Homo sapiens: one gene and its partners. The protein of the gene in region 3 interacts with the protein of the main gene of each other region in a biochemical or structural test. Each region holds a gene or a part of one and is shown on either strand. Other genes may lie near its edges. The genes, in order: AKT1, EIF4EBP1, MTOR and RPS6KB1.

Region 1 (7,820 bases), on a different chromosome or scaffold from region 3:
GGCGCGCTCCAACTTGGCTGGCCCAGCGCCGCCCGCCGCTCGCCCCGCCCCAGAGAGAGCGAAACTCGGGGCGGGGGCCGGAGGGGGCGGGCCGAGCGACTTCCCGGAGCGGCGGAACCGCTGAGGTCACCCTCGCCCCCCCTTCCCTGTCCGCCCCACCCGGCCGGGCCCCGCGCGCAGCCAGCAGGGGCGCTGGGGTGTGAGGGGGGTTTAGGGCACTGCGCGGGGGCAGGGGGTCTCTCGCGATACTTGGCGCTTTGGCCTGGGTCCCCCACCTCCCAACCTTTCCCGGCATGGGGTCCTTACTGCGCCAGTCTGCAAAAGGAACCCTTCCGAGGGTCCGCTTGTATCCCAGCCCGCGTTGGGCAGTCACCCGAGGGTAAACCCGGGACCCTGGCCTCCCGCCACCTCGCAGGGCGCCGGCCTTGGGATGGCGTAGGGGTTGCGTGGATTGGGGGTCGTTAATTTTGCAAAGATGACACCTCCTTCTTCCTTGAAAGCCTCTTTTTGAATTTAATTCAGCTGGGACCCTCTTCCAAACATTCAAGCAGGATGTCGATCCTAGAGTCCAGAACGGGGACTTCCACCCTCTCCACAGACCCCAGCCCAGCGTCTATGGGGGACCCAGCGCAGAGAGGCACGGAAAACGGGCACCTCCCAGCAGACATGGTGGCACGGGGGGACAAACGCCATAACAGAGACAGTCGGAAGCCCTCCAGAGCCCAGGGTAGGCAGGAACGTGTTCAAAGAGGAGGAGACTCCGGACAGGGGCTGGCATGGGAGTGGGGGTAGGGAGGAGTGGGGGAAAGTGTTCTAGGGCAAAGAAGCATTGAGAAGATGTGAGGGGGACGCCTGGTTGTGGGAGAGGGAATCGCCAGAGAAGTAGAGAGTGTGTTTGGCGGGGTTAGGGTCCCTCCCAGGCAGATGGAGCCTTTTCCCAGGGGCACAACCTGGGCTGCCCTTGACTGAGCAGGTTTGAAGGTACTCTAGACCACCGGATCATCTTCACAACAGTCCCATTAACTAGACGCTCTTATTTTCATACCTTTTTGGTGAGAGAGTTTAGGTAAGGTACCCAGAGCCATGTATCAGGCAGTAAGTCACTGAACCACGATTTGAATTCAGCCGGTCTCATTCTTCTCTGCCTTGGAGTCCGGGAAATGGAGAATGTAGTGGAGGAGTCACCCCAGTCAAGGCCAAGCAGTGGGGTGGGGGTGGTGCTGGAAGAGGGGCTGGATCACAAAGGACAGGACCCGGCCAGGTATGTGTGTGCAGGAGGAGTGGAGCCCACAGTGGGATCTGAAGTCTGGGAAGGAAGGCCTCGTTGTTATACTAAAATATCATTCCTTGTTTCACCGGATGGACTGCATCTTTATTTCCTAAACCTGGCAACTGCAGCTTGGACCCCTGGAATGACACTGCACTTACAGCCACTGAGACTAGCTTAGGGACGGCAGAGGCCTGGCTCCCACTGCCGCCGGCCATCCACCCTAAGGACCCCTTCCTGAGGAAGGTCAACTCCCCTCTCTCCACGCATTTAAATAATCATCTGCCTTGCCCCAGCCACCAGCAGGAATAGCTGAATTCAAGTAAGTTAAGGGTGAACTCAGATGTGACTGCTCCCTTCCTGCCCTGCCTGGATCACAGCCCTGCCCCGGCCCCTCCCAACCTTGAGCACGACCAAACCTTTAACCTCTTTGAACCTCAGTAATCCTCATCTGCAAAATGGGAGTCAGAGTGCATCCCGGGGTCTTCGTGAACATTAACGACAGGGCCTGGCACTCAGCAAGCTCTCAGGCTCTGGAATGTTCTTCCCCAAAGAACCCTTCACTGGTTTCTCTTCATCCCTGTCTCTGCTGAAAGTCCACTCCTTAGTCAGGGTGGCCATTCCTGCCCACCTTCGCTAAGTTCCCTCGCAGTCCCTTCTGCTGCATACCCTCCTTTCCAGCCCATTCCGGGTGTCCTGTGATTGTGGGATATTCCAGCACCTTCTGAAAGGGAAGGGGCTGTTTGGTCACTTGGTGCTTAAAAGTTGGCAGGACGCAAGTGGGTGTTCAGTAAATGTTTGTTGAGTGAATGTGTGACGGTTGCTTCTGTGAGTGATTACGATGGTCCCACCATCCCTAATCCTGACTCCTCTGTGGCAACATTCCAGCCCTGCCTGCCCACACCCCCAGCCCCTGAACCTTCAGAGCAAGTAGGGGTGGCCTGCCACACTGGGGCTCTGGGCAACAGGCTGACAGCTCCCCACTGCAGGCTGGGAGCAAGCACCCTAGCCTGCCCTGCCTGGCTGGCGGGACAGAGAGAGCCTGGACACTTAATGGGGGTTGTGGTACACAGGGAGGGTCAGGATGCTGCCTTCAGGAGCCTAGGGTAGGACCTGGAAGGAGGGCCCAGCTAGGAATGGGCTAGATGAAGGGGAGGGGACAGTGGGAGAGAAGCTCCTTATCCCTCTCAGGTCGGGATGTCTGGGTTCAAGTCCCTCCTGCCCCACACCGATCAGGGAAGGGGGGCTGTTCCAGGCAGAGACCGCCCAGAGTTGGTGCTGGGATCCTGGCCAGCCTGTAGTCCTCAGAGCCCCTGTGACTGGCTGGGTCTCAAGTGCAGGAATGACAGGACACCGTCACACAGCCACTGTCGCGGCGGTGGTGGTTCAGGCAGAACCTCTGCAGACTCAGGCGGCCATCTGGCCTGGGAGCTGCCCTGAGGCCCCGCCCTGCAGCTGCTGCTGGGACCTACACAGCCCAGGGCCCTCGAGTCCTGCCCCCGGCCAGCAGCTGCAGAAGGTGACAGGGCAGGAGGCCCCTGAGCTCTGGGAGGAGGCAGCCGTCGGGCCCTTCCCTGGTGCAGCAGTTTTTGTCGGAAACATCTGGCCACAGAGCACCTCAGCAGTCCCAGCAGCAGCCGTGGGGCTGGGTTCTCTCCTGACCATTCTGTCTGGGGTGGGAGGGGGTGTTCTTGAAGAGAGGACTCTGCTTTCCCTCTGGGACGCTGGAGGAGAGGGAGATGGCCCTGCCCACTGGGAGATCCCCGTCTTGGGGGAGGGCAGTTCATGCCAAGGTGAAGACAGGACTGGAGTGTGGGGCCCACAGTGGGTTGCAGGCACCAGCAGATGCCAGGGCACCAGGCTGGGAAGACTGGGAGGCCTCCTTGGAGACAGCCAGTGCAAAATAAGCAAGAGGTCCAACCACTTCAAGAACAGCCCGCAATGTCACTGCCTCTTCCATGAGAGGGTGCCCTGCTCCCTCCCACATCCCCAAGCCTCGGCCACTTGCTGGCCTTGTCTCATGGCCCTCTTACCCTCTGCTTCCTCCCTGAATTCCTTCCTCCATCCTTGCATGGCAGAGCCCAGGATGGTGGACAGATACCAGGAACTCTTCCTCGGGGAGCAGTGGGCAGGTGGGACAGTCCCAGAGGGAGCCCCAGGTGGCTCATGGTGCAGGTTTGCTGGGTGAGAGACAGACACCAGACGCCCAGGCTCTGGGGGCAACCCTTGTGTCAGGTATCCCACCCAAGCGGCGCAGACCACTGGGCCTCTGACTTGGCCCCCTGGAGGTGGGCCCTTCCTGGGGTTACAAAGTCTGAGCTGGGAGGGAGCAGAGGTGCTCAGGCGAGAGGCAGGAATGGGGAGTCCCCTGTCTGAGGAGCGAGTGCCCTCATGCAGGGGGAGAGAGTCCTTCTCTTGGTCAGCCCCAAGAGGCAGGGATGAAGCCCGAGTTTTGGCTGCAGACTCTGTCCTGAGCACTGGGCCGAACCTGCTGCCTCTGTCTGCATCTCCTCCCACCCCCTCCCCTGCTGCCAGCTGAACTCACTCTGGCTGAAAATAAAAATGCTCCCCCAACCCCAATACTTAGCAGCCTCAGGAAGGTAACTCACAAGAGTCTGTCTTTCACAAAAGGGTTATTATCAACTGTGGGCCTCTGGAATGGGGGAGGGGCAGTTGTCGGAGGAACTTCTGGCTAGGAAGGGGTCGGGGTGGCAGTCACCTGCACTCTCCTGTGAGTGTCCAGGAGAAAGGGGTCTGTGTCCCACTTACTCATTCCATACCCGGGCCATCTGCCTCCCAGTGGACTTCGGACTGGGTGTCCGGGCTGACCAAGTCCACCCAGCAGGGAGGGCTCTGGGCTGTCAGCTGTCACAGCCCACCCTAGACACCGCTCCTCCTCTGTCTGGTGTCTGCTCCCAGCTCAAGGTGGGAGCCAGGCAAGGTGTGCCCCTCTTCTCCCACTCCCCAGCAAAGTCCCCCTTTTGTGAGTGTAGCTGCCAGTACCTAGGTGAATGGTTGACTCCCCTCGGAGCCTTCCTGCTCCTTGGAGGCCCACCTCCAACTGACCTCCTGTCCTGGCATCCTCCCGCACTTCCCCCAGAGGCACAAGGTCTTGGGATTGGGCCTTTTAGGTCACTCTTGGCCGCCCCCTCCACGCCCCCCAGAGTGGGGCAGCCTGAAAGTCAACCTAAGCCACCCCCGCCCCGCGCGCGGAGGCAGAAGTCCGGGATTCGTCCCTGACCTGTCTCGGGCCCCTTCTGCTAGGGTCACGGCAGAGCGAGCCCAGAAGCGCCGGGTCACTTTACAGACGGGGAAACTGAGGCCAGAGAGGGCGTGGCCCCGGGACGGGCTGGCTGGTGGCCGGGCTCCGTTAGCGGCCCAGCCCAGGCCCCAGGTCGTCGGGAGCTGCCCCTCAGCCCGGCCGCGCGCTCCCCGAGCGCGCTCCGCCCTCGCCGCCGGCCGCGCGGTGGGGACGCCCCGGGCGGCGGAGGCGGATGTGGGCGGGCGGCTCCGGGCGCGGGGCGGGCGCGGGGCGGGGAGAGGGCGGGCCGGCGGCGGCGGCAGGACCGAGCGCGGCAGGCGGCTGGCCCAGCGCACGCAGCGCGGCCCGAAGACGGGAGCAGGCGGCCGAGCACCGAGCGCTGGGCACCGGGCACCGAGCGGCGGCGGCACGCGAGGCCCGGCCCCGAGCAGCGCCCCCGCCCGCCGCGGCCTCCAGCCCGGCCCCGCCCAGCGCCGGCCCGCGGGGATGCGGAGCGGCGGGCGCCGGAGGCCGCGGCCCGGCTAGGCCCGCGCTCGCGCCCGGACGCGGCGGCCCGGTGAGTCCCCGCCCGCCGTGGCCGCCCGGGCCTGGATTTCCTCCCCGCGGGCCGGGCCGCTTTGTTCGCGGCCGGTCGGGCCGGGGCGCGAGCCGCGGCGCCGCCAGAATGGAGGAGCGGGAGCAGGAAGTGGCCGAGCGGGCCTGGGCGGGGAGGGCGCGGGGCGCGCGGGCCCGGCCAAGGGAGGGCGGCCCCACGCCGGGCGCCGGGGGTGCAGGCTGCCGGCCCCAGCCTCCCTCATGACCTTGGGGAGGCCGCTCCGCCGGGCGAGGCCGGGACCCGAGAGAAGGGACGCCGCCGGGCCTGGAGCTGGGGCTCGGGGTGCCCCTGCGGGCCGTGGGGCTCCCCGGGCGCTGGGCCAGCGAGGCAGCCGGCGGAGGTGCCCCGGGGTTGGAGAAAGACTCGCCGCGGCCGGCCTTCAAGTTTGTGGGAGGGCCCCGGAAGGAGACTTCGTTTCCCACGGACGAAAAGTTGTACGTGGTGGCGGGGTACCCAGGCTAGCCACAAAGGACTGTGACCCTCCTGGGCCCCGGAACTGCTTCCTGTCTTGGGTGGGCCCTGGAGGTCCTGCCCGCCCATCCCAGAGGCCAAGGCTTGGAGGGCAGCTGGGGCTTGCCCCTTAGATTGAGTATCCTGGGGCGCTAGCGAGCTTGGTCCTGTCGGGACGGCCTCTGAGTGCTGCCTTGGTCAGCGGGTGAGCTTGGGCCCCTGCTCTGCAGCCAGAGGCCGCCCCACATTCACTCCTGGGTCTCTCGGCCTTGCTCCAGGTGGCCACTTCTTGACTGCTTTGAGTCCCTCATCCGAGCGAAGGGCGGACGGAGTCCGTTGGTGGGGGTCCGGTTGCCTCTCCCGGGAGCTGTGTAGACTTCTCATACACCAGGGTTCTGGAGGCAGATGGAGGAGCCCTTTCGAAAACAGAGTATTTTTTTTTAAGTTGTGACTTAATAATAGTAGCAAGAATATGTGCTTATGGTAAAGGCAGGCGGCAGGTACGGAGGCTGTGGGAAGTCGGGGTCCCTCCGCCCCCACAGGCAGCCCTGTGCTGGCCTGGTGTATACGTTTCTGTGCAGACGTACACCACCCTGTGTGAGCACAGATGTATTTTTACACATGGCTCTGGACAGCTGTCTGACTCTGTCAGCAGCAGGCCTTGGAGGGGCTCAGGCCCGTGTGGGGGTGGGGGGACATCCAGAGGTCTTTGAGTCCAGCCCTCTGCCTCCAGGCCACGCCCACTCAGTGTCGTCAGAGCCCCCTGTGCCTGAGGCGTGCGCGGCTCGGAGCCCTGCCCTCGGAGTCCTGCGGTGCCTTCCTCGAGTCTGGCCTGCTTTCCATCCTGCTAAGTACTTGGGGCATTTCCCTCTTTGGGTAAGGTGTGGTCTTCCCTGTCCTGGCATTAGACACAAGGCAGTGGGCCTTCCTGCCATTCTAAGTGTAGCTTAAGACAATCAGTGCAAAGCAACCCTTTGTGGGTGTCCAGCCCTTGCCTCGGGAGGCCAGAAAGGTGGCCTGGGGGGAGAGCGTCTAAGCTGGCTGTGGAAAGACCCATGTTGGGATCCATTCCACAGAGGTCGTCAGGGGTCTCTGCCTGGCCTGGAGGTCCCAGAGAGGACCCTCCTCCCCTCAGGAAGGCCCATCTGGAAGGGTAGCAGAGGACTGCTCACAGGAAGAGCATGCGAAGTGCTCTTTCTGGGGATGCCTGTAGTTGGTGATGTGGGAACTGGGTTTTGAGGGATGCCTAGGAGTTCATCCATCAGAGGGGAAATGAGGAAGCCATGCAGGATCAATGGATAAAGTGTGCTCAGGTGAGGGTTGGCTGGTGGGCCGCTGCAGGGCGGGGGCCTGTCCAGTGCTCCCCCACTTACTTGCTGCCTCCCGACTGCTGTAATTATGGGTCTGTAACCACCCTGGACTGGGTGCTCCTCACTGACGGACTTGTCTGAACCTCTCTTTGTCTCCAGCGCCCAGCACTGGGCCTGGCAAAACCTGAGACGCCCGGTACATGTTGGCCAAATGAATGAACCAGATTCAGACCGGCAGGGGCGCTGTGGTTTAGGAGGGGCCTGGGGTTTCTCCCAGGAGGTTTTTGGGCTTGCGCTGGAGGGCTCTGGACTCCCGTTTGCGCCAGTGGCCTGCATCCTGGTCCTGTCTTCCTCATGTTTGAATTTCTTTGCTTTCCTAGTCTGGGGAGCAGGGAGGAGCCCTGTGCCCTGTCCCAGGATCCATGGGTAGGAACACCATGGACAGGGAGAGCAAACGGGGCCATCTGTCACCAGGGGCTTAGGGAAGGCCGAGCCAGCCTGGGTCAAAGAAGTCAAAGGGGCTGCCTGGAGGAGGCAGCCTGTCAGCTGGTGCATCAGGTTAGGGAGGCTGGGAAGGCCTTTTGGGGATGGGGGTGATTTGTCCAACGGCTGGGGGAGGTGGGAATGGGGAGGTGAGCAAGGCAGCAGCTCTCAGGGCCTGGCTGTTGCGGGTGGTGGTGGCAGGGGCTGGAGGCTCTAAGCCTAGAATAAGGAGAGGCCCAGGTCCAGGGAACTGTGTTCAATTACATGGATTTGACACTTGGCAGCCCTGAGTGTTTTGGGGAGAGGGAAGGCAGGCGGGCAGATGGGGGTCAGAGAGCTTAGAGGGATGGCAGCCCACCTGGGAAGGCAGGTGCGGGTGGAGCCCCCAGGCACGTGCAGTGGGTCTCTGGCTCACCCAGGGCGAGGAGCTGCCCTTAGCCAGGCGTGGCCTCA
Region 2 (6,877 bases), on a different chromosome or scaffold from region 3:
AGCCTGGCTCTCCACACCACGATTTAGAGATCAAAGTTTACCTGGATGGAGCCATCTTTTTTTTTTTTTTGCTAGACTCCAGAGATCTGAAAGGTGAGGGAAGTTATGTTTCACTAATTCCTGAGTACTCAGAGTGTGGTATGTGCACCAATCAGTCAGAGCTAGTTAGAAATGCTGAATCTAGGCCGGGCATGGTGACTCACGCCTGTAATCCCAGCATTCTGGAAGGCCGAGGCAGGCAGATCACTTGAGGCCAGGAGTTTGAGACCAGCCTGGTCAACATGGTGAAACCCCCGTCTCTACCAAAAAATACAAAAATCAGCTGGGCATGGGTGGTGCATGCCTGTTGTCCCAGTTATTGGGGAGGCTGGGGTGGGAGGATTGCTTGAACCCAGGAGGTGGAGGTTGCTGTGAGCTGAGATTGCGCCACTGCACTCCAGCCTGGGTGATAGAGTGAGACCCTGTCTCAAAAAAAAAAAAAAAAAAAAGAAAGAAAGAAAAGAAAGAAATGCTGAATCTAGTTCCCACCCCCACCTACAGAATCAGAATATGCACTTAAATGAAGCCCCCAGTTATCCTCAAGCACCTGGAAGACTGAGAGGCAGTATTCTGCTCTGGAGCAAAAGGGTGTGACCATTTTGGCTGCAATGTGACCATTTTGGCTTCTCTGCCCTGGCAGAGGTGGGCTGAGGTGGGCTTTGGAGGAAGAGTCCACACCTTGGCTAATCGAGGCCGACCAGGCTTGCTTGACTTTAGTGGAAGTCAGCCAGGTTTCCCTGGCTTAGGGACTGTGAGCTGTACCTGCTCCACTGGACGACCAAACAGTGAGCTGGCTTTAGGCTCCTGGCACTGCTAGCTTCTTCCAGTGATCTCAGAAACATATGCTATGCCCTGATGCAGAAGTCCCTTCCCCACTCCCCCTACTGCTAAAGACCTTCAAAGGGAAGGGGATTTGCTGTGGTCTGTCAGCCCCCTGCCCACTCCCCACTTCCCAACCCAAAGTGAAAAGTGGATTTGAAGTTCCTATATTTTATATTTATTATTTATTTTAGAGATAGGGTCTCGCTCTGTCACCCAGGCTGGAGTGCAGTGGTCAATCATAGCTCACTACAGCCTCCAACTCCTGGGCTCAAGCGATCCTCTGGCCTCAGCCTCTGTAGTAGCTAGGACAACATTTTGTTGTTGTTTTGTTTGTTTCTTTGTAGAGATGGAGTCTCACTATGTTGCCCAGGCTGGTCTTGAACTCCTGGCCTCAAGCAATTCTCCTGCCTTGGCTCCCCAAAATGCTGGCATTACAGGTGTGAACCTTGGTACCCGGGCCAGAAGTGCCTATAAACAGTATCCTGGCTTCCAATTTGACCCAACAATCCAGCAATAAAGAGTGCAAAAAAGGGCTACCTGCGCCTTCAGGCCGGCCTCAGGGCCCACCCTGAACAAATCCAGCAGACACTTACACCCTCATTTGAAAGAACTCCAAAATTGTCAGGAATTGTCCTGGTAGACCATTGTGACAGAGACAAAGGAGAACAGCATGGACTACAAAAGACCCAGCAAGGGAAAGAGGATGAGTCGGGAATGGCAACAAGAGCCCCTGCGAGCTTTTCCTTGGCTCATTTCTAATAGAAAAGGAAGCATTTCTCCCTTCTCTGCCTGGTTGCTATTTCTTGTCCAATCTGGGAAAACGGTGTGACAATGGGCAACAGACACGTGTTCAAGCTCTGGGGCCTCAATGCCGGGCTCTGTAGAATAAGACGGCAGGGCTGGACAAGATCCCTAACCGTTCTAACAGTGTATGTTTTGGATCAAACAGCAGAGGACCTCGGATCTGGCCGCGCTCGCTGCTGGTGGGACAGCTGCCTGAGAAAATAAGCATGTGGCCCCCGCCCGCCACCTAGCCAAGCGCCAGGATCTGTCGCGTTTTCTAGTAGTATGGAAAGCAGCGTGGAGGAGAATGAAGGGAGAGGAGCAAAAAGGGGTGGGGGCAGTGCGACAATGAGAGGGGAGGAGAGAGCCACGAGGATTTATTTCATCATGCAAACAGGCGCGTAGGTTTCATCAGCGTCTGTGCGCTGGGGCTCCGGGGCTGGGAGGGAATGCCAGGTTCCTGAGGGCAGCCCGAGGCTGGCCCCCCCACCCGTGCCAGCTCAGCTTCCTCTTCCTCATCCTCTCCCAGGGAGGTCACACGGTGCCTCCTCCTCTCCCCGGACAGAAGAACGTGTTTTTCTGCACAGCCCTGGCCGTGGCGCCAGGGTCCCCCCCGCGGAGATCCCACTCGCGTAAATGGGGAACGTGCCACAGGTGCCCGGGAGGCGCTGCTGGAGCAGGCAAGCACCCCCAGATCCGAACCTCAGTCAGAGCGCGCGAGTCCAACACAAAACTCGGCGTGCTTCGGGAAGGAAAAAGGGCCCTGCAGGAATCGTTTATCCCAACAGATAATACCCATCCCATAAAAACACCAGGCCAGGCCTCTCCTGGATCGTGGGCCACCCTAACTCCGCCCTCTCCCGCTTCGGGAGCGCCCCCAACACCCACAAGGGGCAGCACAGCTCGGCATGTGGCTGTCCTGGAGGCGTGCGTGTTTGTTAGGTGTCAGCTGTCTGACACCTAACAGAAAGAGGAAACAAACGGGGCAGTTTGTAACTCGGGTCTGGAAGACGCACTCAGAGGGGAAGCGGGCGGCCACTTCCATGACCCTCGCTGTCTCTCCGATGCCCCTTTTCCGTTCTTTCCAATCACGGCGCCCTTGAGCCTGGACACCCGGTCCAATCCGCGATTCCCGATCCTCCCGCCCGCCCAGGAGCCGGCAAGCGGCGTCGCCAAGCCCGCGCCTACCTCCCGGGGTGGTGCTGAAGAGCGTGCCGCCGGGGGTCGTGCTGTAGTCCCCGGGCGGGAGCTGCACGCCGTCGCCGAGCACCACCCGGCGAGTGGCGGGGATGGCCCGGCTTGGGGTCTGGCTGCAGCTGCTGCCCCCGGACATGGTCTCCTGTGCGCTGCACCCGCGAACCTCTCGCTGCCCTCCCGCGCCTCCAGCCTCGCTCCGCCTCGCCCCGTGCCGCCCCGCCCCAGGACGCCCCTTCCGCCTCTCCCGCCCCACGCCCCTGGGATTTGTAGTCCGCGCCGCAGCCCCACCCAGCTCCAGGACGCTGCTTCCACGTGGGATCCCCCGCCGCCCCCCGACCCACTCCCGTCTGCTCACGGGCTCTTCCGCACGGGCGCTGGCGCCGCCCCGCAGCGACTGCCCCTCCGTCCGGGGTCCCTCCCCGCCACGCTGGCAGGGACGGATATGGGGATGGCGGGCGGGATAGCTCGCCTAAATTAATCCTTGGCTGGGTTGGGGGCGGCGACTCAGGACCGCGCGGAGATCCGAGCTGACCCGGCCCACTGCAGGAAGGCCCGGTTTCTGCATTAGGACATCAGGCCTGGTGTACCCTTCGGCACTCCCTGTTTCGTGCCTTAGTTCCTCAGATGAGAAAATGGGGATTGAGTAGTTATGCTCACCGCCCCCCGCCCCGCTTCAATTTCTTGACCTTGATGGGGGTGGGGGTGGAGGGGCTAACAATTCCGTTCCCGGCCTTTAGAGAGGGTGTGGGAGGAGGAGTGAACCAACCAGCGGCGTCCTGGGAGCTAAATTTAGAGCTGGGGGCGCAGAGGTGGGTGGTGGGGAAGGGCGTTGGAGAGGAGTAAGAGTGTCGAAGAGGTTTCCCGATAGCCCCTGAATTGAGTCCAACGTCCACCTGAGGTTTAGTAGGTACTCCTTGGATGGATGGATGGATGGATGGATGGATGGATGGATGGATGGATGTTCAAGGGGAGAGAGAAAAATGCAAGAAGGACCGAGGATGGAAAAGCTTGTTGGGTTTGAGAAGTTCTTAGCATTATGGGCACATATTGTGGGGAAGAGGGTGAAGAGGGGAGGGCAGTTTAAAAGGGAAATTGGGTGGTGCACCTGTAATCCCAGCTACTCAGGAAGCTGAGGCTGGAGGATGCTTGAGCCCAGGGGTTTGAGGCTCCAGTGAGCTGTGATCACACCACTGCACTCCACCCTTTGTGACAGAGACCCTATCTCTAAAAAAATATATAATAATTTTTTAAAAAGGAAATTGGGGTCAGGTCGTTGAGTTTTTCAAATTATGCCAAAGTGCTTGGACTTTGTCTTAGAAGGGCAGGAGATATCAGAGATCTTTTAAGCAGGGGGATGACATGATTTGAGTTGTTTTTTGGAAGGATAACTAGTAGCCAGTGGAGTTTCAGAATGGGCCAAGGAGGGCAAGGCCTGAGATAGGGAGACCTGTTGAGTTTGGTCTCACTTTTGAGGGAAACTTTAGGCCTACAGTGGCTAAGACAGTAGCCACCAGCTACAGGTGCACATTGAGCACTCCAAATGTGACCAGTCCAAACTGTCACAAGTTTAACATACACACCATATTTCAAAGACTTAGTGTGAAGAAAATCATGTAAAATACCTGAATAATTTGTTTCTATATTGATTGTATGTTGAACTGATAATATTTTGAGTATACTGGGTTAAGAAAAATACATTATAAAAATTAATTTTGGGCCAGGCGCAGTGGCTCACGCCTGTAATCCCAACACGTTGGGAGGCCGAGGCAGGCGGATCATGAGGTCAAGAGATCGAGACCATCCTGGACAACATGGTGAAACCCTGTCTCTACTAAAAATATAAAAAAAATTAGCTGGGCATGGTGGCGCATGCCTGTAGTCCCAGCTACTCGGGAGGCTGAGGCAGGAGAATTGCTTGAACCTGGGAGGCAGAGGTTGCAGTGAGCTGAAATCATGCCACTGCACTCCAGCCTGGCGTCAGAGCAAGACTCTGTCTCAAAAGAAAAAAAAATAAATTTCGGCTGGGTGCAGTGGCTCACGCCTGTAATCCCACCACTTTGGGAGGCCTAGGCGGGTGGATCATGAGGTCAGGAGTTCAAGACCAGCCTGGCCAAGATGGTGAAACCCTGTCTCTACTAAAAATACAAAAAAACAAAACAAACAAACAAACAAACAAAAACAACAGACCGGGCACAGTGGCGGGTGCCTGTAATCCCAGCTACTCGGGAGGCTGAGGTGGAGAATTGCTTGAACCTGGGAGGCAGAGGTTGTAGTGAGTAGAGATCTGCCACTGCACTCCAGCCTGGGTGACAGAGTGAGACTCCGTCTCAAAAAAAAAAAAAAAAAAAAATTAATTTCATCCAGGTGCTGTGGATCACACCTGTAATACCAGCACATTTGGAGACCGAGGTGAGCAGACTGCTTGGGCTCAGGAGTTTGAGACAAGCCTGGGCAACATGGTGAAACTCTGTCTCTACAAAAAAATTTAAAAATTAGCCCAGTGTTGTGGCTCACACCTGTGGTCCCAGCTACTTTCAAGGATGAGGTAGGAAGATGACCTGAGCCCCAGAGGTGGAGGTTGCCATGAGCCAAGATTGCACCACTGCACTCCAGCCAGGGCTCAAAAAATAAATAAATAATATAAGATAAAAATAGACCAGGCCTTGCTGGTTGCAGCGATGTGCACTTGTAATCCCAGCCCTAGCTGGGATTACAAGGCCAGAGGATTGCTTGAGGCCGGGAGTTCAGAGACCAGCCTGGGCAACATAGTAAGACCTTGTTTCAAAAAAGAGAGAGTTTCAGGCCGGGTGTGGTGGCTCACGCCTGTAATCCCAACACTTTGGTAGGCCGAGGGGGGCAGATCACGAGGTCAGGAGATTGAGACCATCCTGGCTAACACGGTGAAACCCCATCTCTACTAAAAATACGAAAAAAAAAAATTACCCGGGCATGATGGCAGACGCCTGTAGTCCCAGCTACTCGGGAGGCTAAGGCAGGATAATCGCTTCAAACTGGGAGGCAGAAGTTGCAGTGGGCTGAGATCGTGCCACTGCACCCATCCTGGGTGACAGAGCGAGACTCCATCTCAAAAAAAAAAAGAGTTTCACTCTGTTGCCTGGGCTGGAGTGCAGTGGCTAATTATAGGCACAATCATAACTCAGTGCAGCTTCCAACTCCTGGGCTCAAGCCATCCTCCCACCTCAGCCTCCCCAGTGGCTGGGATTACAGGTGCATGCCACTGCACTTGGCTAATTAAAGAAAAGAATTTTTTGGCCGGGCGAGGTGGCTCATGCCTGTAATCCCAGCACTTTGGGAGGCCGAGGCAGACAGATCACCTGAGGTCAGGAGACCACCTGGCCAACATGGTGAAACCCTGTCTCTACTAAAAATACAAAAATTAGCCAGGCGTGGTGGTGTGTGCCTGTAATCCCAGCTACTCAGGAGGCTGAGACAGGAGAATCACTTGAACCCAGGAGGCATAGGTTGCAGTGAGCCAAGATCCTGCCACTACACTTTAGCCTGGGCAACAGCAAGACTCCATCTCAAAAAAAAAAAAATTTTTGTAGAAATGAGATCTTGCTATGTTACCTAGGTTGGTCTCAAACTCCTGGCCTCAAGTGATCCTCCCTCCTCAGCCTCTTAAAGTTTTGGGATTACAGGCATGAGCCACTGTGACTGGCCCCTCTACCTTTTTCTAGAGCAGGAACTCATTCATATGGAAAAAACAGCTTTTATCTGAGGAATGGGAATCCTTTTAAATTATCAGGCCTAGACATTAAAATGAGACAGCAATCACGTCCCACTACCCCCTTTTGAGCTATGTATTCATCTCTTGAAACTGCTTGCTATTGTCACAAGTAGCCATAAATTAACCTATTAATAATAATGCTGCACTAAAGACTATATAGGGTGTGGACACTATAACTTAACAGTGTATAGCCAAGGCTGGGTGCAGTGGCTTACTCCTATGATTTCCACACTTTGGCAAGCCAAGGTGAGAGGATGGCTTGAGGCCAGGAGTTTGAGACCAGCCTGG
Region 3 (7,033 bases):
AGTAGTGGGAATGGCAAGCAGTAATTTCAGAAGAGGGAAGGGGTCTCAGCCAGTGTAGGAGGGAGAAGTGGGTGACAGAAGTGCACAATGGTCCTTACCCATAAGTGTCAATTTCCGGGGCCTCTGCTTGGATGTGATGACTTGCAAAGACGGTGCTATGGACTGAATGCGAATGATTGGCTGGTTGGGGTCATATGTTCCTGGCACAGCCAATTCAAGGTCCCGGCACATCAGAAGTTTTGGGGAAACATATTGCAGCTCTAAGGATGTGAGCTGTAAATAATTACCAAAGGATTTAGTGTTCTGCCTCCAGGGAAGAATTTAAACGCAATTTAAGTATTTTTCAGTGGATTGCTAATAACAATTACTTGTCCCAAAGCAGAAGTAAAACCAGATGCTTTGGAATGAGTGTTAGAACATTCATAGACAGTAAAACAGAAAGGACTATAATGACAGTTAACCCTGCCAGGAGCCTGAAGATCCTACCTGAGGCAGCTGCTTTGAGATTCGTCGGAACACATGATAATAGAGGTCCCAGGCTTGGGTGAGGTCCTTGACATTCCCTGATTTCATGTACTTCCTGCACCACTCTTGGGCCTCCATTAAATCTCGACCATAGGCCTGAGAGAGAAAGCAGGCACGTTTTCAAGTTATCAAAGTCTCAACCAACCCAGGAGGCAAAATCCCCAGGCTGACTGCAGATATTCCTCAGGAGCCCGCTGTGGCCTGAAAACACTGGCAGGGGGCTGGAGAAAGCAAGAGCATAGGTGCAGGCCTCCAACCCTGGAGCTTCCAAACCAGCAGCATGGCTTATAGGGAAGGAAGGGTGAGAGGAGAGACGAGATGACCTCTTGAGAAATCTTGGGCTTTTCCAGTTAAAATTCAGAAGGGTCCCTGTAACTAATTTCTGATGTTTTATGCTCTGTGACCTCCATCAGAGCTCGTTTTATTAAAGTCAGTGGAAAGGCCAGAGGAAAAGAAATCTGACAAAGGCCTTGGGTCACGTCCTTTCATTCTATAAAAACTTTTCTCATTTCATTTTTTTTTAGTGGCAGAATATTTCTACAGGGTTATGTCCTTTCGTGTTTTTTACCCCATACCTGATTAAAGGATGTTTCCTTCAGAGTCTGGGGGCCCCGTTCCATCATAGCATGCAAGGGCTCCAGCACCTCAAACATGCCTTTCACGTTCCTTTCCCCAAAGTACAAACGAGATGCCTCTTCCAGGCCTTCATGCCACATCTCATGCCAGAGGATGGCCACTCGGATCAGCTCCTCGCTCACCTGAAGCCAAGAGAAGAAGGAGAGAAGCATCAAGAATCAGCTAACCTCAGAAAGGTCTGTTTTGGAGACACAGGAGGTACTATTTCCAGCAGTCAGAGGAAGTGCACAGCACCAATGCGAGGAAGAAAAACAATCCCACTTGCGCCCACCAGCTAAGGGACCAGGGTCTATGAAGCCCCACAGTGGCTCCGACCCACCATCATGGCCTGCTGGACCAGGGTGTTGCTGTGCTCACACATGTTCTTCAGAATCTTGTTGGCTGCATTGTGCCGGGCTGTCGTGGTAGACTTAGAAGCCACTGTCAGTGGGTAGATGAGGGCCTGAGGGAAAAACAGAAGAAACATCTATAAAGGAAATGTGGGTTGGGGAAGAGCTGGTATGAATTTTAAGGAGAATAACAAAACAAGTGGTGAGTGTGACATTAACATCTGCTTGAGACTACCAGGAAGGGGCTCAGTCTTCGAGGGAACGCTTTCTTTTTAGCAAGGCTCCCGGGCCCTCTGGGACGGCTGGCTGGACAGACCCTCCTGGGCCAGGATGGAACACATGGCTCCCAGTTCCTGCGCTTGTGTCGCCAGGGCAGCTTTTGGAAAGGCTGACCACCAAACCAGTGGTTAGATGAGAAACTGCCCAGAGTCTCCACATACCTGGGGGTGGTACCGACCAATGTCTGTGAGAAGCTGGTGAATGAGACGTCCCACCAAGGGTCTGGGCGTATCAATTCTTGCAATGAGCTGAGGTATAACCTGGTATTCAAAAAGACACAGTATGTAGCATATGAGACTTGAAACAACTAGTTATTCTTCTAGGCAAAGATCAATTCTTTTAACTTGTTTCGGTTGATGCTCTGAAATGGTTCATTCCCTTCCCTTTAGTTTCTAAAAGAAAATAAAGAAAATATGGACACTTGACACTGGGACCGAGCCCTACTTCCTTAGCACTGTATTAACACACACTGCCTTGTGACACTGAACACAGCATGCTTGTAAGAGGAGACACACAGAAGAGAGACTTGGAGCCACCTTCACCTGTAACCAAGTATCCTCACCTGTAGCCAGGTATCAATCTGGATGGCTTTCACCCCCTCCACTAAGGCCTCATTGACATCTGGCCAGTGACCATAATCAAACCATAAGGTGAGAACTCTGAAAAAGAAATGAGAAAGTCACAGAAAATTTAGTTTCCCAGTTTTTGCCTGCCTGTTTTTCATCTCTAAGGCTCCTGAGAAGAGAGCTGGCAGGGACTCCAACCAGTAACTCTCAAATGTGTTTGGCCTCCCATGGGAGCAGGTGTCTGTGATGGGTGGCAGTGCTCTTGACTGAACACCGTAAGAGTCACCCTGAGCAAATGAGCATTTCATCCCAGGTCACCGAGGGGTCACCATGGCATGTATGCAAACATCAAACAGACGAGCCAGGATAACCTTTAGAAAGCCACAAGTCTGCACATGTAAGAGTCGCTGTACGGCAGAGGCAACAGGGACACCTGGCTCTTAGCTGGCTGGAGATCCTCAAATGAAGGAGGATGTGGACCTTGTCACCTTTACCCTCTGGGTTAACTGATTTGAGTCATTTGTTTAGACCTCTCCAAGTTGCTGAGGGATTTTAGAAATACTGTGACTTCAATAGGCAACAGGGTGGTCAGAAAAAAAGAAATATTGTGATTAACAGATGGGTTAATAATCCCTCCATAATAAACCACACATGGAGAGTTCTCACTCCACTTCTCCTCCTCACTCTCTGTAGGTTTCACCCACACAGGTGGGGCCCAGTCAGCTGTTACTCCTTAAATGCAGTGCAGAAAAAAGGCACATACATCGATCTTGGGTGTCCTGATCAGGGTCAGGAAGGGAAAGAGGACTTTTACGTGTGACTTCTAGGTCTTGCCATTAACATGGCCTACCAGAGTTGCATCCTTCCCTTCTCTGATACCTGAGTGTATCCTGGAGGTTGTTGCCTCGTGACAAGGAGATGGAACGGAAGAAGCCCTGGACGGCAGGCACCGTGTACATCAGGAGGGTTTTGGACAGATCCTGTTGGAACACACACGTGTTAGCGACACTCTTGCCTCTGCTTTCTCATCTGTAAAATGGGCATAAGAGCATACTAACTGTACCTACTTCAAAGGGTGGTTATAACAATTAAATCGGTTAATGCATGAAAAATCTTTAATCATTACCTGGCACATAGCAAAGACTCAATAAATGGCAACTGTATCATAACTGTTATTATCTTGGGCTGACAGTGGCTTCCTGAACAGGATGGAGGGAGGAGGTGGAGCTGAGGCTCTGAACACCCGGATCTCTGGGCCTGCCAGCGGCCCTGGCGCATTCTGAACTGACAGCCCAAGGGGAAGGGGAAGAAGTGGAAGTGGAGAGAAAAAGGCAGAGGATGGACCTCCCAAGCCCCATCCTCAGAGTGGACCCGCAGCTGTGTACAGCCACCCACACACAGGTGCAGCACGTAGAGAATGAGCTCGTCCACAGGGAAGCTTGACAAGGAGCTTGCTCTTCAGCATAGAGGCTGCGTCAGCTCCCCAAACACAAATATTCACACACAAAGCCCTATCTCAGGCAGTGCTGGATGGTAGATAGGCAGTATTTTCCAGCTCCATCTGGCACTTCAGATACAGCCTCAGGTTCCTTTTAAGCTTAACAACGATTCCATTTCTCAGAGAGCCTGGCACCTTGGTTGGTTGTTAATAAGGAAGAAGGGAAGGGTACCTCAGTGACCTTCTTCTGCAGCGGCGATGGGGTGGGGCTGTTCTCGGTGCTCTCGGCCTCGCTCTCACTGTTGCTGCCCTCGGTGCTGGCAGTGGTGGTGGCAGTGGCGGCCGTGGTGGCGGCAGTGGTGGCGTTGGTGATGTTGGCCCCGCTGGCATGACGCAGTTTCTTCTTCTCATCGCGGGCTTGGTTCTGATGTTTGTAGTGTAGCACAGCTTCGAAGTTCATCACTGCCCACGCATGCCAGGCCTGGTTGGGGAGAAAGGCAAGGACAGACACTGGAGCTGTGACCAACAGCAGGGCTCAGAGGAGCGCAAGGTCGATGCTGAGGAACAGCTGCTCCTGCCTGTTCTGTGTGTCCATAAAGCAAACACTTCAAGGAGACACTCAGAAATGGCTGTTTTACTAAATTCAACATGATCCACTCACTTTGTGGAGCACTAACTATATAACGTACTATGAGTGCACTGCGAGAAGGGCACAGCAAGAGGAGCAGGAGAGAGCTCTTGCCTCAAGGGATCTCCCGGCCTCCTAGGGGAGCTCACGCACAAACCTGAAGACCTAGGTACTCTGCAAGGCACAATGGGAGTAGCAAGGACAGGCATTTGGAAAGCTTTGTCAAGAAGAGGGATTTGGGGTAGGTCTGGAAGAGAGCTGCAGAAGGGCAAGGAGGGAAACAAGAAGGCAGCGGTGGGGACTACTTGGCAAGGGGGAAGAATAAGGCCAGAGATGTGCAGATTGGTTCACGGGAAACAAGCCCATGAATGTGACCGTGCAGGGGATACATGCAGGCGAGGAGTGAGAGCGAGGCCAGCAAAGCACGCCTGGAGCAGGCACAGGGCTGGCACTTTCACCCAGAAAGCAGAGCTGCACTGGGTATAAAGTGTACATTTAGGGGAGAGCAGAAATGGCAAGCAGAAGTGGGGGCAAGCAGCAGTCATCACAATATTTCAAGGGAGCAAAGTTTTGACAGGTCACCAGATAGTGGACAAAGGAAGACATGAAGAGCATAGGAGCCTGACAGAGAAAGAATCTCACCCATCTGCCTGGTCCCAACACCTAGCCCACGGCCTGACAGAGAACCAGTGCTCAATGCTTGAAGGAAGAACCGCTGGTGCTTATTTGGATAAAGGAATACTACTCTCTCTGGGGTTCTGAGCGGCAATGACTCTACAGCGTACCACCACTTGGTTTAGCGAGTGTGAGGCAGAGTTTGCTTCCAGGCATGGTAACTTTGCAGTGATAGTAGGACACTACGTGACCCATTAATAGCTGAACTTTCTGAATAATTGGGAAATTCGTTTGTATGCCTTGCCAAAAACCTTGAACACAGGTGTATCCGTTTTCTCAACTAAGGAGAATAGATTGATCACAACTAACCTTTACTTGATGAGTAAGAATTCTACAATGACCCAGGTTTCAGTTTTCCCATACCTTCATTTATTCACTGAATATCTCTTGTGTATCTGCTATGTGCCTGGCAATGACCTGGGGTCAAGGTGAACAAGACAAACAGTCCTGGCATGCATACAGGGCCATGACGTTGATGGTAGAATACATCATAAAACAAAAGGGACCCACATTAGGAAAAGCTTTTAAAAACTAAAACTAAAGTTCCTGAAACCAACTTTTTTCTTGTGATTTGCTTACTTCCTAAAAGCTTAATGAATGAAAGTAACTCTGGTTAGAATACAACTCTGATTAATAAGCTTCCAGTTAATAGTGTTTACCGGATGTATTTTCCAGCTTTGGACATGCAAGCTGTCCTAGAGAGAGTATTACTCTTATGACAAAATGGACATTTTTCAAACCAGAATGAAGCATGCCTAAACAAAGGTAAGATCTGTATTATAAGTGCTTCTGCAGTCCTCAGATACAAGTTTAGATTTCAGAGAGATTAATTCACAAAGTATTGGCAAGCCAAGGAAATACTGGAAAGATGTCAATGACATCTGCCACACCAAGTAGTTACCAGAAAGCCTCTCAAAAAGAAATAAGAAAGTATATTCTCACCAAAGATATACACTTCCAAAAATCACCCCTCCATCAATCACATCTTTTATATATTTTCTAATTCTGTTTATCTCTTTCAAAAGTTTCCTGTAACATAACAGGATGTTACTTGGATCTTTCCAATAAAAACAAAGAAAGTTAAGTTCTTAGCTGAGGAGCAGGCAAGGATGCAAATCAGAAAAACGCTGAACAAGAACAGATGACCTAAGGGAAGATGTCACTCCAGAGATTAACCATGTGTCCAGATGCTCCCAGGAAAACAAGCAGCTCAGAGTCTGTAAGACAGCAGCAATCCCCAACACCACATACACATAATAATGGTGTAACAAGTATTTCTCCAATAATCTTTCTGTATTAATTAAACTTGTAGGGGGAAATGCAGGCTCCCTGGGCCTCTTATAGATAGGCTCCAGGGACTCAAGGAGTAAGTTCACAGCATCAGCCTAGCTCCGCAGAAGCTCAGCTGTAACCACGAGCACACAGGAGGACACGAGCCAGCCAGGGTGCTGGGTCTCACAGGTGGCCTGCTTCTGATCACCTTGTACCAGCTGCGGTCGTGCTCTGTGGCGGCGCTGTAGTACTGCAGCACTTTGGGGATTGTGCTCTCATTGATGCCCTGTAGATTCAGCTGCCACTCTCCAAGTTTCAGGAAGCATCTGGAAGCAGAGAAACAAGCCCCCATGACATTCCCTCCTCAAAACAGCCCTCCTAAGAGGACCACAAATTGTTAGGGGACACTGAAGCCCTTCTGGTATTTCCTCTTATTCTCAAGAGGCAATGTGAAGGAGCTAGCAAAATTTTCAGCCACACGCAAGAAAGGAGATGGGCTTTTGGAATACATTTTTAAGATACCATCTTTCCATCTTGACCTTTGTCTCTCAATGACAGCATAAACCATGTACCTGGTACAGATAGGTCTGTATGGACTTACCTACCCCAAACCCAATTTTTTGTGGGTGACAGTTGAGAGTTACTTCTTTATTGATTGCTATATGGCTTCTCCCTTACTTTTCCC
Region 4 (5,987 bases), on a different chromosome or scaffold from region 3:
TAGATTCAGAAACTCATTTACTCTGTGAATTCAGATCATGGCTTCTAAAAGATTGTTTTACCAGTATTGATAGGCTACTATGTTGTATAGCAAGGTAAGATCAGTTTGAGAGCTTCTGTAGAGAAATCCCCTTGGCAAGTGTGGTATAATTACCTCACAGAAAAGAAGTGGTTAATGCAAAATACCCAGCTTACACTAGATATATTGAGACATTAGTTAAAACACATTTGTTCACTACGTTATTTTGTGCATACATATCAAATTATCAAATGTAGCTGACCAAGTGTAGCTGAACAGATTGTTGATTGTTAGCACAAGAAGGTCTTCCTAGAGTTTTTTATGAAGCTAGCTTTCACGTAGATTGTTACATGTATTTTTTTAAGTAAACAATTCATATCTACTATCTGACATAACTTGAAAATCAAAGATGTGTAACATCTAACTTAAAAATCAATACTAAAACTTGTTATATACTTAAATAGCTTCAGTTTCTCAGCAGAACAGCTTTTAACCCATTCCTTACATACATAGTTTATTTATATGACAACTTGAACACATCTGACATGTTAAAATAAATTTAAACCATTTATACACCTGATACGTATACTAATTCCTTCCTATCTTTAAGATAATAAAAAAATAAATCACTTCTATTTATGTTCATTCAAATTTGCATTTAATTTCTATTTACATTCATTCAATCCGAAATCAAATAATACAGTCAACTAAATACAAGATGAAAAGCAGAACAGGTGTTACCCTCATAGCACTCCTAATAAGGCAGCTGAAGAATTTTATTTACTGATAGATGCAAAGCGAACTTGGGATAGGAGAAACAATAGTTTAAAGAGCAAACACAAACATAGATGAACCCATCTTTCAGATGTTATTCCGGATAATCCACTGAGATAATACTTGTGCTATAATGTTAAGAATCACACAAGAAAAAGTACTGTATTAATCAGCAACAGACCACAGGTTATGTGTGACAAATACTTTTGTGATAGTTTGTCCAGCTTGCTAGTGTCTACTCCTATGAAAAAAGGTAGATGTTTGGACATTGATGTTTTTGAGAAATTAACCATTTTCAAAGCCTTAAAATCTATTCTTCATAAATTCAACATTTCTCATGGGAATAATCTTAGATCTAGCCCTTGTAAGCTAGGAACCATATGATTAACTGAATATTCAAAATAGGTCCTATATTAAATATATAATCCAAGGCTCAGTATATTAATACTATCTAAGATGCATCTTGTTTATAATCATTCATTACCTATAGTAAAGAATGTTGAATTTATGGAGTATCATACATGCATCCTCCACCCCTGCCCACAAATTATCTTCTATCTTAAAAAATAGTATGGAAAAATCCTTCTTGAAGGATTCAAATTAGTTAAGACCATAAAGGGGGAAAAAGAACATAATTTTCCTAAAAATCTGGTTCAAAGTTCAATAATTAATACTTTACATTGTTAATCACAGCTGGTTTATAAATCCCAGTTTAGTTATTCTGTAATGCTACAAACCTTATAAAATCAAATTAGTAAACTTCAGTGATTATATTTTAATTAAAAAACAGCATGTATAAAATAAAAAAATATCCTGTAATAGCTGATTTTAAAGAAAATAATCAAGTGATGAAAAAAAAGCACTTAATCTCTTTTATACACTTACCTGGTATAACATAAAGAACCCTCTTAGAAACTCAAGACTAGTAATATCGACATCATATTTTAAACTATGCTTGGATTTTTACAAATAAATATAGATAAGCCATATTGCATAGGTGTGTGCTTTCTGTCTGTGACACTAATGTGACACTTGACATGTTTTCACAGTCATAGTAGGGATATCCATTTATGAAACAAGTTCTCAATAAACTTTCCACAGCATGGGAAATAAATTTCACTTAATAAATGTGAAGTCAGAAAAACTATGTATTTGTGTGGATGGTAGCTGTGCAATTAATGCTTTTTATGCAGAAAAGTTGCAGTGTTTGCCACTATTGCTGGCACTACTAATTATGAAAATGGTTTAACTGGGGTGGTTATAGCCAGCCAATCACAGTGCTCATGTTACTAGCAAATAGGACCTAGGAAGAATATTTTGGTGTATAAGTTTCACTGGAATTTGGTCAGGCAGTCAACACTACAGTTAGTAAACATATTTGAAAACAAGTATCAAGAGTATCACAAGCCATTTACAGTCTGAAATAATGCCTGTACATATCACCATAGCTTTTCGGGTTCTGTTTTTTCAGACATCACAAATTGTCAAAGAACAAGGATCTGCACTTTTTAAGTATAATTTCTGCCCTTAATTATTATTGTAGCTTCTAATTTACCAGCAACAGTCAAAGTTCTCAGTAGGCTGCTGCAATAAGGGAGGAGGGGGAAGAGGGAGTGATTTTTTTTTTAAAGGCTTTCTGTCCAAAGATGAACTTTTATCGATTCTTTCAATTATTGCCACAATTGAAAAGGTGTATGTCCAATCATTTTTCATGGTTCTGTTTTTGCTTACTGTCATAGGATTTCATCCCATCTCATTTGAGTTGCAATTTCAAAAAGCAAAGCCTTGCTCTTTTCTGACTGAATTCAACATGCATAAAGAATTTTATGGCTTGGATCCTATGGCTCAAAAAGGTTTGAAAACATAGCAAGCAGCATCTATTTAAAAAAATCCTAGGGTTGCAAAATATTACAAATTGACTTTGCACACTCAGACTGAAGACATTATAAAAGACAAACAAAAAAGGTGATACAACTCAACTGCAACTGCATGATCATCTATTATACCAGTATGCACTGAAATATATTTTTATAAAGCTCTGCAGATATTAAACCCTTTCACCAGCTAAAGTCATGGAAATGCTCTCTTTAAGGCAGGAAATATTTAAGAAAGGTAAAGTTACCTTTATTTTTATTCTTTTAACCTGTAAATCATTTATGTAGATTTTGTTACAATTTCAAAAACATAGTGTCCTGTTAACATGTTTCCTAAATTAAGCCACTAAGTTTTCTTTACTGTGGAAGACATTCATCAAAAGGCCATCAAATATTTTTACAATCAAAAAATGTAGCCCAAGTATAGGAGAAAAAAAAATAGACCTTTTTTTCTTTTTAAAACTGTTGAGGAAAAAAATATAAGGAAGGTAGACAGCAGAAACAGTAGAAAGAAGTAAAACTGAAAATCTTACCAATTTGCTGTAAAGAGATTAGACAGAGAGTGGGCCACAGCAACACCCTCTTCCCCTGGATATCCCTATCTCCCTCACCTTGCCGACCACAGTATGTATTTTTTATCCTGACTCTCTTCTGTTGTTCTTCAGCCATGGGCTGAAGACATTTGGTGTCTTGAACCAAATACTGGTGTAAGAACAGGTGGCGATTTTTTTTTCCAGTGCAATGCAGGCCCGGGACAATGATGAAATGTAGGACATACAACTTATGCCCATTCCAAGGCTTCCAGTTAAGCTTAGCACATAGCAGTACTGCAAGTAGAAATGATTAAATAGATTCATTTTTTTTTTCTCATATTACAGACAGGTATTGCAGCTGGGTTACTGAAAATAAACCCCAGGTCCACCCCAATCCCTCAAACGAGCCACAGCTGTGGTTAACAATGATTCATTTGCATTTTATTATTTCACCAAGAGAAGAAACAGAAGTTGTCTGGCTTTCTTCACACCAACCAATAATTTCGCATTTTAAAGTTTGGGATGTTTTTCATAATGAGCTGAATCAAAAATCTATTTGAAAAATATATATTTATATAAAAAAAAGATTCAGGTTGTTTGCACGTAAAACATCAATTGGTAAGTTTCTTTTGTCTTTGCTTCCATTTTGCTGGAAAAAGTTTGACCAAGCTTGCATGCTAATTTGTCCTTAGTTGCAAGTATTATAGGCAATTTTGTACTTTGCCTAATGAAAGGATAACCCTTCTTCAACACAATCAGAACTCAACAGTGATTCAGAAGCAACATCCTACCCTTAATACTGTCAGTTTCGAGTCATCAACATGAAAATCCTTGATAAGGTTGAGAAGATGTCGCGAGGAATCAATTAATTGATGTGCCTAAGAGTTCAGCAATACTATTTTGCTTTAAGTTTTTTTTTGCACCATTGATTGATTTTTTAAAATCCACGTTTATTTTTCCTGTGTCTGAAGTGTTCTATGTAATGACATTGACTCTCTGAAACTGTCATTTTGAGTCGTTTCACCTTGCAGGATGCTCACACATCTCCCTCTCCACCTTTTTTGCCTTAAATTCATTAAAAGCATTGCTCTGTCATAGATTCATACGCAGGTGCTCTGGCCGTTTGGAGATCATGGGAAAAGCTTGTTTTTTGTATGGCCCAGAGTTCGGCTGTCGTATTGGAAGTGGTGCCGATGCTTCCCCACTCATTGTCACATCCATCTGCTCTATGCCACTTGTTTCCATTGGGTATTCCACAGGTGTCTGAGGATTTGCTGTGCTGGCCGAAGCACCTCTTCCCCAGAAATCCCCAGGAGAAAATTTGACTGGGCTTTAAGACAAGGAAGAGCTATCATTCATTTGCTTAAGGGTCATCTCAACAAGACATATTTCCTTTACGTTTAAAGGGAGTGGGGTAACATGACATTTATTTTCATTTAATTTTATTTTCACGTGGATTAGCACAAAGGCAAAAATTGAACCATCTCTCCCCCACCTAGATTAACTGCTAGAATTTCCTAACTGGTCTCTTTACCTCTACACCTGACCCCCAAAACCCTCAATGAGATATATATACATTTAAATGCGTATTATATATATCATTTTACTCTCCCCTGCTCAAAACAGCTTTCTATTGCATTTAAAATAAAATACTTTTCCAAACCTCTGCCCTTCTCCTCACTCACCACACACTCCAGGAACACTGATTTCCCTTTCACTTCCAGGAAAAGGGCAACTTTTCTCCTCCCTCAGGGTTTTTGCATTTGCTGTTCTTCTGCCTGCAACATTCTTATACCTCCTATTTTTGTAGGGCTGGCTCTTTCCGTTCACTGCTAGATGTTACTACACCAGGGAGGCCTTTCTCTGATCACTGTGAGTAGAAGCCCCCTTGTTTTTCCTCTGCTCTCTACCAGTACATTCTTTTTTTCCCCTTTTAAATTATAGCACTTTGCACTACTTGTAATTATATTTTTGTATATCCTTTGTCTATTGTGACTTTCCCACTAAATTGTAAGCTTCATCAGGACAGGGACAATTCCTGTATTATAGTACTATATAGATACACACACATAACATGCAGTATGTAGTGCTGGTGCTCTTGGTGCACAATAAATGCTGAGTGAATGGATAAAGAGGACATTTGCCAGTATGGCTGCTTACTTTTGGGAGGGAAGGTAAACCATATAACATCATAGATTAGTCAGACTAGTCCTTTGCAATGTAAGATATAGATGCTGTGCTTATGTCAACCAAAGAGAGTATGACAGTCTTTCATTTATATAACTTGGCATAAACTTCTTAAGCAAACACTCTTGTAGGTTGTTTAAAAACAAAAAAAAGTGAAAATAAGAGTGTGAAATACCTGACAGGTGTTCGTGGGCTGCCAATAAATCTTCGAGGTGATCGGATTTTTGGTTCAAAGGAAAACTTTTCTTTCACACTTTCAAGTACAGATGGAGCCACATATGTAAAACCCTGAAAGACAGTAACAGTGGACTACAGAATGGCATTTTGTCATGTATCTCAAGAGAATGGGGTTGTTCAGTCTGACATACCTACACAATGATGCACACCTAAAACCACCAATGTGTACACTCTCCCACGTCCTCAACCTCATTTTTAGACCCGTTAACTTCTTTCCAGCCATTTCGTGAGGCACACACTTCAAGAAAGCAGAATTCCATTGAGCCTGATATGCTAGCAAACAAAATTCTACCCTACTGACAGGAATAGAAAAAAAAACAGGAAAATTCAGGCTCCATATGAAGATGTTAAATACGCCCAGGCA

What was found.
Region 1: of the proteins of MTOR (region 3) and AKT1, one has a biochemical effect on the other in vitro, tested with the Homo sapiens proteins (19 studies listed by BioGRID and IntAct, with this or other methods).
Region 2: of the proteins of MTOR (region 3) and EIF4EBP1, one has a biochemical effect on the other in vitro, tested with the Homo sapiens proteins (29 studies listed by BioGRID and IntAct, with this or other methods).
Region 4: of the proteins of MTOR (region 3) and RPS6KB1, one has a biochemical effect on the other in vitro, tested with the Homo sapiens proteins (18 studies listed by BioGRID and IntAct, with this or other methods).

What each region holds. Positions count from the first base shown.
Region 1 is NC_000014.9:104,792,749-104,800,568, reverse strand, and holds the start of AKT1 (RAC-alpha serine/threonine-protein kinase), read left to right. Parts: upstream 1-4,820; 5' UTR 4,821-5,085; intron 5,086-5,361; exon of another isoform or gene 5,362-7,264; 5' UTR 7,265-7,442; intron 7,443-7,820. UniProt on the Homo sapiens protein: AKT1 is one of 3 closely related serine/threonine-protein kinases (AKT1, AKT2 and AKT3) called the AKT kinase, and which regulate many processes including metabolism, proliferation, cell survival, growth and angiogenesis.
Region 2 is NC_000008.11:38,026,674-38,033,550, reverse strand, and holds the start of EIF4EBP1 (eukaryotic translation initiation factor 4E-binding protein 1), read right to left. Parts: upstream 3,018-6,877; 5' UTR 2,978-3,017; coding exon 2,833-2,977; intron 1-2,832. UniProt on the Homo sapiens protein: Repressor of translation initiation that regulates EIF4E activity by preventing its assembly into the eIF4F complex: hypophosphorylated form competes with EIF4G1/EIF4G3 and strongly binds to EIF4E, leading to repress translation.
Region 3 is NC_000001.11:11,126,524-11,133,556, forward strand, and holds part of MTOR (serine/threonine-protein kinase mTOR), read right to left. Parts: intron 6,675-7,033; coding exon 6,557-6,674; intron 4,255-6,556; coding exon 4,006-4,254; intron 3,316-4,005; coding exon 3,215-3,315; intron 2,429-3,214; coding exon 2,332-2,428; intron 2,030-2,331; coding exon 1,931-2,029; intron 1,604-1,930; coding exon 1,481-1,603; intron 1,284-1,480; coding exon 1,101-1,283; intron 622-1,100; coding exon 487-621; intron 274-486; coding exon 99-273; intron 1-98. UniProt on the Homo sapiens protein: Serine/threonine protein kinase which is a central regulator of cellular metabolism, growth and survival in response to hormones, growth factors, nutrients, energy and stress signals.
Region 4 is NC_000017.11:59,945,093-59,951,079, reverse strand, and holds the end of RPS6KB1 (ribosomal protein S6 kinase beta-1), read right to left. Parts: intron 5,675-5,987; coding exon 5,562-5,674; intron 4,530-5,561; coding exon 4,292-4,529; 3' UTR 3,494-4,291; coding exon of another isoform or gene 3,478-3,493; 3' UTR 506-3,477; downstream 1-505. UniProt on the Homo sapiens protein: Serine/threonine-protein kinase that acts downstream of mTOR signaling in response to growth factors and nutrients to promote cell proliferation, cell growth and cell cycle progression.